Linked DNA regions of Homo sapiens: region 2 is linked to region 1. Evidence: fine-mapped expression QTL. A gene starts in region 1. The other region holds a variant in brackets. All regions are shown on one strand. Distances are between the middles of the regions.

Region 1 (5,365 bases):
TTTCCTCTTTTGAAAATTGAGGTTGGGAGCTTCGGACCCTGCATTTTACAGATTCTGAACTCACCCAGCCCACATTTTGTCCAATGGTGATTCACTCTTTTGCTTAACATGTGGGTGGTTTGGGGTCAAGACAGCATTGGGTTTGGAGACCCTCCCACAGTGCCTTGCTATCCTCTCAGCCTCAGTTTACTGCACTGCAAAATGGGTTGATGATGACACTCTGATATTGGGGCTGAGGGCATGGGGACAGGGAGTAAAACATAGGACCAAGCTGCAATGGCTGGGATGGGGCATCGCCACCCTGGTCTCACCATTGGGGCCACTTAGGGCACACCCTGACCCACATACCATCACCCACGCCAGGGGTGAACCTGTTCTCGGGCGAGGTCCTGGGCAGGAGGGGGTGGGAGTTGCCAGGCCAGCTCATTCCCTGTCCCTTGGAGCGCCCTCCCAGTGGTGGGCATGGGGCTGGGAGTCTGACACCCCCAGGTTTGAATTTGCCTCTACCTGTGTGTGTGTTTTTCCCTTGGTGCCTTTGTTTGTTCTTCTGTGAAATGGGCTGAATTCCTCTGGGAAGATGGGAGGAGTCTGTGGGAGGAGGAAGCTCTGTAAATACAGACATGATTATTATAATATTAATGACAGTATTAGTGCTCTTTAAATCGGGTCACAGCTGACCAGGAGGAGGGAGGGGAAGGGGGAGTCTATCAAAGGCATTGCCTGAGGAGACTCCAGCACCTGGGAAAGTTGGGTACACAGTAGGCATTCAATAGATGTTTGCCAAATGAAGTGAGGAAGAGGGAGGGGACCCATGGGGAGGACAGAAAATTTCTGAGAATCCCTGGCTCAGATTCCCACTTGGTGGCCCGAGTCACTGTGTGACCTGGGGCACGTGTCTCAGTTTCCCCATCGTGGTGCTGGTTGAGATAAGATACTGCCTTGAGGTGTGGTGACGAGAATCAAGCCAGATTGTCTGTGATCGCAGCCCAGGTGGCGAGGCCAAGAGGGGAGACATGACATAGTGGGTCATTGAAACAGCATGGTACCTGCTTGAACCAAGTGACTGGTCCGTGGGAAGGATGAGAAAACCCTTGCTACTGGCCCTACTGTACATACACTGGGGTCCAAGAGAGAGGGAAATGTGAGATCCTGTTTCCCAGGATCCTGGAAGCCAGATCGTGGAAGGTCAGGAGTGGCCCAAGGTCATCAGGCAAGACGTCAGCGGCTCCGGACACCCAGCCAGGCACCACTCGATTCCCAGGATGGGAGCTCGGGTCTTGCCTTTGTTGCTGATGTGGTTCCTGCTTTGTTTTATCTGTTCTGGGGCTGCTCACATGTCTCAGCCCCAGGTTTGCAAGACTTGGTGCCGGGAAGGCAGGATGGGGACCTCTGAGTCAGCTGGCAATGTGCTGTGTAACCTTGGGCAAGTCTCCGGCCATCTCTGGGCTTTGTGCTGGTACTGTACAGGCTGGGAGACTTGGGTTCTAGCAGGGCTGACTTCTCCATCAGACCCAAAATGCCCAGTGTCTCAGGCTCACAGTGCTTTTAGGGGTCCCTAGGTTGATGTTTTCACTTCTTTTAAAATCCAAAGGGAAAAAAATGAACTCTTGGGTTGAAGGAAACATTTTTGTGTATAATATTAATATATTTGTCTTTATGTCAATGTAGTTGTAAAATACAGTTTTGTTTTGTTTTGTTTTTGAGACAGAGTCTCTCTCTGTCACCCAGGCTGGAGTGCAGTGGCTCGATCTCCGCTCACTGCAACCTCCATCTCCTGGGTTCAAGCGATTCTCCTGCCTCAGCCTCCCGAGTAGCTGGGATTACAGGCATATGCCACCCCACCCAGCTAACTTTTGTATTTTTAGTAGAGACGGGGTTTTACCATGTTGCCCAGGCTGTTCTCGCACTCCTGGGCTCAAGCAATCCACCTGCCTCGGCCTCCCAAAGTGCTGGGATTCCAGGCATCAGCCACCACCTAAAATATAATTTTAAATTTCTTTTGTAGTGAAGGAAAGCGCTCATGAATGCAAAAATGTCTTCCCCTTTCTTTTCTTTTTTTTTTTTTTTTGAGATGGAGTCTCGCTCTGTCGCCAGGCTGGAGTGCAGTGGCGCAATCTCGGCTCACTGCAACCTCTGGCTCACTGCAACCTCCACCTCCCGGGTTCAAGTGATTCTCCTGCCTCAGCCTCCTGAGTAGCTGGGACTACAGGCATGGGCCACCACGCCCAGCTAATTTTTGTATTTTTAGTAGAGACGGGGTTTCACCGTGTTGGCCAGGATAGTGTCAACCTCTTGACCTCGTGATCCACCCACCTTGGCCTCTCAAAGTGCTGGGATTACAGGCGTGAGCCACCGCGCCTGGCCATGTCTTCCCCTTTCTGAGCGCATTTCCCTCTCTGAGCCTCAGTTTGCCCAGTCTGTGAAGTGGGTATCGGCCTACCTCAGGATGGCAAGATGTTGAATGCCTGGGCCAGGGTTGGTGCTCAGTTATTTCCCAATTGCCATGATTAATATTTGTTCGGTAAGAACAGCTCCAGGTTCAGGCCGGGGGGCTCCAGGTTCAAGCGCCTCTTGTTTACTCACCCATGGCCTGTGTGGTTCCAGGGAGGTCCCATGGGTGCTGATCGGGCGGGGGAGGAAAGGTGGCGGTTGGATGGTAGGCGGGGCGGGGTGAGCTTCCTGTCCCCCCCCCAACCCATGCACACAAGCCTCCAACTTGGTGCTGACGGAAGTGGCCTCGTGGCTGTCTCCTGGCGCCTGCCCCGTCAGACAGGGGCCCCATCCCACTCGCTACCCTGTCCGGTGAGTTTGAGCCCTGGCCAGTAGATACCCATCATCTCGCCTTGGCCCCCCTCAGGAACAGAGGGGAGGCCCCCCTGCCCGGAGCCTGGGTTTCAGGAGAAGTAGCAGGTGTCACTTCCTGGGCTGGCCAAAGCCTGCATGGGGCCACCCGTTGCCCTGCCCCCCGTCCCCCATTCCAGCTGTGAGTGGTGGTTTGGGTTAGGGGGGCGGCAAGGGGAGCTTGGAAACCCAGAGAGCCACGCGTGATGGTTTCAAACAGGAGGTCATTGGCAGACAGACCAGGGGCAAAATCACAGTCAGCCGGGACCAATGATTGATCTCTCTGTGCCTCGGTTTCCTTCATAAAGTTGGGGTTGCCTCTGAGGGCATGGCATGAAGATTGGATGAGCAGATGCGTGTGAATAGTTGGGTACAGGGTCGCACACATACTGGTGCTCCATGTGTATCTGTCTGCCAGAGGTGGGGTGAGGCAATCTAATTGAAACTGTGAAAACAGTAGTGAGATTCTTGGTTTCTGGGGAACTTGGGCTCCTTGGTTCCTGGGATCTTCTAGAACAATGTTGGCCATCCAATACAGCAGCCATCAGCCCCATGTAGCTACTGAGCCTTGGAAGAGAGGCTGGCACAGCTGAGGAGCTGGGCATATAATTGTATGTATGTATGTATGTATGTATGTATGTATTTAATTATTATTTTTTTAAGACAGAATCTCACTCTTTCAACCAGGTTGGAGTGCAGTGGGGCAATCTTGGCTCACTACAACCTCCGCCTCCCAGGTTCAAGTGATTCTCCTGCCTCATCCTCCCAAGTAGCTGGGACTACAGGTGTGTGCCACCACGCCCTGCTGATTTTTATATTTTTTGGTAGAGATGGGGTTTCACCATGTTGGCCAGGCAGGTCTCGAACTCCTGACCTCAAGTGATCCACCCACCTCGGCCTCCCAAAGTGCTGGGATTACAGGCGTGAGCCACTGCGCCCAGCCAATTGTATTTAATTTTACTTGGTTTAACATTAATACAAAAATTAATACAAAAATTAAGGCCAGGGGTTGTGGCTCATGGCTGTAATCCCAGCACTTTGGGGGTCCCAGGCAGGAGGATGGCTTGAGCTCAGGAGTTCGAGACTGGCCTGGGCCACACTAGTGAGACCTAGTCTCTACAAAAAAAAAAAAAAAAATTTATTTTTAATTAGTTAGACATGTAGTCCCAGCTACTCGGGTGGCTGAGATGGGAGGATCACTTGAGCCTGGGAAGTCGAGGCTGCCATGAGCTGTGATCATGCCACTGCACACTCCAGCCTGGGTGACAGAGCAAGAACCTGTCTCCAGAAAAAATAAAAAAATAAAAAAAACTTAATACAAAAATTATTCAGGCGTGAGCCTGTAGTCTCAGCTACTCGGGAGGCTACTATTCAAGGCTCCCTTGAGCCTGGGAGGTGGAGGCTGCAGTGAGCTATGATCGCACCACTGCACTCCAGCCTGGGCAACAGAGCGAGACCCTGTCTCCAAAAAAAAAAAAAATTAAGTCACCACATGGGGCTAGTGGTTCCCATGCCAGTCAGCACAGCTCTAAGAGATTTGGAGATGCTTAGGGTCCTGGTCATGGACAGAAGCTAAGAAATGATATGGAAATTTAGGGCTTTTCCCCTAGGGATGTCAGTGTAGCATGCTCACCACCCTACCCCTGCCACCAAACTAGGTTTCCTAAGGGGGTGTGGTGGGGACTGAAGTTTTTCAGGGGCCCTGTCATTAACCAGTGCAGGGTTGGGAATGTTTGTTGAAACAAATAATTCCTTGCCCAGTGAACTCCTATTCATGCTTTAAAACCCCAACTCCCATGAGCCCTCCTTTAGTCCAGGTTCTTTTGGACCTTGTCCCTCCATCTGGCCCAGCCCTGACCATGCAGGACGGTGATATCTGTGTCCAGCTCTGTCTCTCTAGACTGGGGACTCCTGCAGGGCCAGGCCCGAGGCTGAATCAACTCAGGGACCCTGACATTGTTCTAGTCTGGGTGAGCAAGTAGGAGGTCTTGGGTGACTCACAGAAGTCCCGGGATTGGAGGCTCAATGATAATGGGTCCAATTAAACTAACTAACTTTCTTTCTTTTTGAGACAGGGTCTTACTCTGTCGCCCAGGCTGGAGTGCAGTGGCGCCATCTCAGCTCACTGCAACCTCCGCCTCCCAGGTTCAAGCGATTCTCCTGTCTCAGCCTCCCAAGTAGCTGGGATTACAGGTGCCCGCCACCACACCTGGCTAATTTTTGTATTTTTAATAGAGACAGGGTTTCACCACTTTGGCCAGGCTGGTCTCAAACTCCTGACCTCAAGTGATCTGCCCGCCTCGGTCCCCCAAAGTGCTGGGATTACAGGCGTGAGCCACCACTTCTAGCCTAAACTAACTTTCAAGATTAGGTAAACTGAGGCACAGAGAGGGGCAGCCTTGCCCAAGGTCTTGCTCAGTCCTTTCCTGGGGAGGCCCCGGGAGCTTCCCCATCCTGTGGTCACGGGTCCCTGTCACTCCTGCCACTGTTCCTACGAGGCTCCCAGCTGCTACCGAGCTGCCTG
Region 2 (5,365 bases), 31 kb after region 1:
TGGTGTGATCTTGGCTCACTGCAACCTCTGCCTCCCAGGTTCAAACAGTTTTCTGCCTCAGCCTCCCAAGTAGCTGGGACTACAGGTGCGTACCGCCACACGTGGCTAATTTTTGTATTTTTAGTAGAGATGGGGTTTCACCATGTTGGACAGGCTGGTCTCGAACTCCTGACCTCAGGTGATCTGCCTGCCTCGGCCTCCCAAAGTGTTGAGATTACAGGCGTGAGCCACCGCACCCGGCCTGAGTAGAGGCTCTTATCCAACCCTGCAAATTCTGCCCCCCCAGGGGACATTGTCAGTGTCTGGAGACATTTTTGGTTGTCACCACCAGGCAGGAGTGGTGCTCCTGGCATTCAGTGGGTGGAGGCCTGGGTTGCTGCTCAGCACCCTACAGTGCACAGGGCAGCCCCCGCCCCCGAGAATGGTCCAGCCCCCAAATATCCACAGTGCTGAGGCTGAGAAAGTCGGGTAGAGCGGGGAGCACAGCTTGGGGTACAGGTGAGAGGGGAGGTAGGTGGGAGGGGAGGTTGGCAAGCAAGGGAGCACGTTCATAGATGGAACAGAACCAGGACCCTGAGGAAGCAGGAGAGGGAGGGGAGCTTGGGTGTTAAAGGCATGAGACTCAGACACAGACCACAGTAGGTGGCTGCAGTCAGGTTCTCGGAAAGGGTAGAGGTCACAAAATGGCTGAATGTTGGCTAAAAATCCTCTGCTGAACCCCCCTTACAGCATGCCTGCGTCTTAAGCCTTCAGTGCTTGCTTGCATACCCCCAGTGATGGGGAGCTCACCCCTTATTGGGCCACCATTCTGGTGTCTGGGAGGGTTGGGGGTGTGGACAGTATCTGCAGTCCTGTCTGGCACCTTTTCTGCAACACCAGGACTTCAGACCCATTGGGGGTCTCTGCAGAAAAGCCCACCTCCTAAGATTTTGGCTGAGTTTGTGCCCCTGGGGAGGCCCCAGAGGCCCCGGGCAGCATCTCAGCAGTGCCTCTTTGTACTCGCTCCTAGACCTGATGCCTGCACCTGCTGACCCCACAGCCAGGGAGGGCCTGGCAGCCCCACCCAGGAGACTTCGCTCTAGGAAGGTGTCCTGCCCTCTCACACGTAGCAATGGGGACCTGGTAGGTGAGGGGGCGTGGCAGGAGCTGGACTGGGGGTCGCGTCTGGGGTCCGCTTTTGGGCACTGGTCCTGGGGCACTCACAGCCAAGATTGTCTCTTTCCCTTCCAGTCTCGTTCCCTGAGCCCCTCCCCACTGGGCTCTTCAGCCGCCAGCACTGCCTTGGAACGGCCCAGCTTCTTATCCCAGACAGGACACGGTATGTGAGGGCGGTCCTGGGCCTGGCTTTGGGCCTCAGTGTCACCTTCTCTGGTCTGGGTGGGTGGCTTCTCTGTTGGCAGAGGTGTGGTTGGGCGGAGGGAGTCTCGAGCCTGGAGCCTATATTCACACTGTCTATCCGTTGTTCCCCATTCCCTCTCCACCACCCCCAGGAGTCTCCCGGGGTCCGAGCCCTGTGGTCCTGGGCTCCCAGGATGCCCTGCCCATAGCCACAGCCTTCACAGAGTATGTCCACGCCTACTTCCGTGGCCACAGCCCCAGGTACCCAGTGATGGGCAGACAGGGCCCGTGGGAAGTCTGTGTTGGGGGAGTCCAGCAGGGACAGCTTTCAGATGTGCTTCATGGTCTGTCTTATAGTGAAAGGGCCTTGAACACTGAGCCAAGTGACCAGGCCCCTGTCCTGAGGGCAGTGGAGCCATAGGAGGGCCTTTTTTTTTTTTTTTTTTTTTTTTTTTTTGAGACAGAGTTTCGCTCTTGCTGCCCAGGCTGGAGTGTGCAGTGGTGCAATCTCGCAATCTCAGCTCACTGCAACCTCTGCCTCCCGGGTTCAAGCAATTCTCCTGTCTCAGCCTCCCGAGTAGCTGGAACTACAGATGCGTGCCACTGCACCCGACTAAATTATTGTGCTTTTTGTTTGTTTATTTGTTTGTTTGTTTGTTTTGAGACAGGGTCTCACTCTGTTGCCCAGGCTGGAGTGTAGTGGCGTGATCTCAGTTCACTGCCACCTCTGCCTCCTGGGTTCAAGAGATTCTCCTGCCTCAGCCTCCCGAGTAATTCTGGGATTACAGGCACATGCCACCACACCCTGCTGATTTTGTGTCTTTAGTAGAGACAGGGTTTCACCATGTTGGCCAGGCTGGTCTCGAACTCCTGGCCTCAAGTAATCCAGCTGCCTCAGCCTCCCAAGGTGCTGGGAGGATAGACATGAGCCACTGTGCCCAGCCATAGGAGAGCATTTAAGCAGGGCTATGCATTGCTGTAGACGCCAAGGCTGCCGTGGGCATTAAGATGAAGGGAGTAATACTAGAAGTTAGGCCCAGTAAGTGGGTAAGGGCGTGGGTTAGGGACAAGCGGAGTGCAGGGATATATATTGGGGTGGCCTTCAGCAGAAAAGATCTG[A/C]AAGTCAAACCATGAAGAAGAGGAGAGTGTCAGATCAAAAACCCAAGCAAAGGATAGCTAAAAAACTGAACATTTTAATTTGAGCTTCCTGGTGGCCTAGGAGAAAAGAGAACTAGGGATGGAGATGTTCCTGCCTCCTTCAGCCCAGGGTGGATTCTTCCTGTCCAGGCAGGAATGAAAGAGGAGGTTGGGGGAAAGGATACGGGGGATCATCAGGGCCATCCTCCTAGATCCGAGGAGTCTGGGGAGCCACAGGCACCAGTGAAACCAAGAGAAGGGGAAGGATGAGGCACCAGGCAGAGCCCTAAGCCAACACCCAGTCCCCTCATCCTCCCTAGCTGCCTGGCTCGAGTAACTGGGGAGCTGACCATGACCTTCCCTGCTGGCATCGTGCGTGTGTTCAGCGGGACCCCACCACCACCTGTCCTCAGCTTCCGGCTTGTACACACAACCGCTATTGAGCACTTCCAGCCCAACGCCGATCTGCTGTTCAGGTACTATGGAGGGGCAGTGGGAGAGGGCCTCGGAGGCTGCTGGGGATCAGGCTTCCGGACTCTGAGTTCCCTCTCTGCTTCCTGGGATTTTTTCTTTTCTTTTTTTTTTGTAGAGACGGAGTCTTGCTCTGTCGCCCAGGCTGGAGTGCAATGGCGTCATCTCGGCTCACTGCAACTCCGCCTCCCGGGTTCAAGCAATTCTCCTGCCTCAGCCTCCCAAGTAGCTGGGATTACAGGCACGTGCCACTACACCCAGCTAATTTCTTTCGTATTTTAGTAGAGACAGGGTTTCATCATGTTGCCCAGGCTGGTCTCAAACTCCTGAGCTCAGGCAATCCGCCCGCCTTGGCCTCCCAAAGTGCTAGGATTACAGGCGTGAGCTACCACACCCGGCTTGATTTTTTTTTTTTAATTATTATTTTTTTGAGATGGAGTTTTGCTCTTGTTGCCCAGGCTGGAGTGCAGTGGCGTGATCTCGGCTCACTGCAAGCTCCGCCTTCCGGATTCAAGTGATTCTCTTGCCTCAGCCACCTGAGTAGCTGGGATTACAGGCATGTGCCACCATGCCTGGCTGATTTTTGTATTTTTAGTAGAGATGGGGTTGCACCATGTTGGTCAAGCTGGTCTTAAACTCCTGACCTCAGGTGATCCACCCGTCTCAGCCTCCCAAAGTGCTGGGATTACAAGCATGAGCCACCACACCCAGCCACCTCCTGGGATTTGCTGTGTGGCGTGGGGCAAGTAACTTGCCCTCTCTGACCCTTGTTTTCCATCCCTCCTTTACTGCCCGCACCACAACCACCCAGGTAGGGCTTTGCTGGGCCCAGGGTGGGCCAGGAAATTGCATCTTTAGGAAGGGGTAGATTGAATGCTGGGAGCCCTGGGAGGGCATGTCCCGAGGATTGGGGTGATCAGTCCGGGTCTCTGCAGTGACCCCTCCCAGAGTGACCCTGAGACCAAAGACTTCTGGCTCAACATGGCAGCTCTGACCGAAGCCCTGCAGCGCCAGGCAGAGCAGAACCCCACTGCCTCCTACTACAACGTGGTGCTGCTGCGATACCAGGTGCGCCACCCGCATGGGGCCGGGAGGAGGTGGTGGAGTGGGGGACACGGTGAGCCGGCAGCAGACATGGAGGCGCCTGCGTGTTGGCCAGGCTGGTCTCGAATTCCTGACCTCAAGAGATCCAATCTGTGAGAGCCGATGAGCTGGAGGGAGTAGGCAGTGTGGGTCGGGAATGAACGGTGGAGGAGTAGGCAGTGTGGAAGAGCGTGCATCCCCTGTTGCAGATAGTATGTTTATGTGAACTAGAAGCAGCCCAGCCCCGGAACCTTACACTTGAACTTCCCTGGGAGACTTTGTTAGAATGAGGCGCTCTCCTGCCCCCTGCTGGAAACCTGGTGTAATACAGCCTCTCATCCATCAAATCTCCCTGTGACTGGACCCCCTTGGGGCGGTGCGTGCATCGCAGGGTCAAGGTGGTTGAATAGCGCATGGTGTGGCAAGACAGGATGGCCCAAGCTGTGTCCTCTCTCTCATTCTCATTCTTCCTAGTTCTCCCGCCCGGGTCCCCAGTCTGTGCCTCTGCAGCTCAGTGCCCACTGGCAGTGTGGAGCCACCCTCACCCAGGTCTCAGTGGAGTACGGCTACCGGCCCGGTGCCACGGCTGTGCCCACACCACTCACGAACGTCCAGATCCTGCTGCCTGTGGGGGAGCCTGTGACCAACGTCCGCTTGCAGCCGGCTGCCACCTGGTGAGGGCTTGCGGGAGGCCAAGGAAAACTCAGCAGTTTCCCCCATAACCCCAGACCTTCTCCCTGATGCATTGATTAAAGGGTGCACCCTCGGCCTGACCGTTAACTGTGAGCCCACCCTGCTTAGCACTAAGGGTGATGTTATGAGTGCCAGGTGCAGTGGCTCATGCCTGTAATTGCAGTGCTTTGGGAGGCTGAGGTGGGAGGATCACTTAAGGCCAGGAGTTTGAGACCAGCCTGGGCAATATGGTGAGATCTCATCTCTACAAAAAATATTTTGTTTATTTATTTATTTATTTAATTTATTTACTTTGAGATGAAGTCTCGCTCTGTCGTGCAGGTTGGAGTGCAGTGGCACGATCTCAGCTCACTGCAATCTCCGCCTCCCGGGTTCAAGCGATTTTCTCTGCCTCAGCCTCCCGGATAGCTGGGATTACAGGTGCCTGCTACCACACCCAGCTGATTTTTGTGTTTTTTTAGTAGACATGAGGTTTCACCATGTTGGTCAGGCTTGTCTCGAACTGCTGACCTCAGGTGATCCACCCGCCTCGGCCTCCCAAAGGACTGCGATTATAGGCATGAACCACTGCACCCAGCCTTACAAAAAAATATTTTAAAAAGTAGTCAGGCCGGGTGCGGTGGCTCACACCTGCAATCCCAGC

What was found.
Region 2: its variant is fine-mapped to the expression of FCHO1 in whole blood (INTERVAL, PIP 0.92).

What each region holds. Positions count from the first base shown.
Region 1 is chr19:17,748,776-17,754,140 of GRCh38, forward strand. FCHO1 (FCH and mu domain containing endocytic adaptor 1) reads left to right here and starts at 2,702. Exons shown (of 29, transcript NM_015122.3): 1 at 2,702-2,802. It overlaps FCHO1-AS1 (FCHO1 antisense RNA 1), which reads right to left and starts at 2,622. Exons shown (of 5, transcript XR_007067152.1): 1 at 2,441-2,622; 2 at 1,883-1,975; 3 at 508-588. RefSeq lists an enhancer at 4,860-5,365.
Region 2 is chr19:17,780,222-17,785,586 of GRCh38, forward strand. FCHO1 (FCH and mu domain containing endocytic adaptor 1) reads left to right here. Exons shown (of 29, transcript NM_015122.3): 21 at 1,010-1,122; 22 at 1,231-1,318; 23 at 1,491-1,599; 24 at 2,796-2,951; 25 at 3,882-4,014; 26 at 4,504-4,703. Among named protein-coding and RNA genes, the nearest start is that of B3GNT3, 12 kb to the right of the region's middle. The variant A/C (reference allele first, on the strand shown) is at 2,458.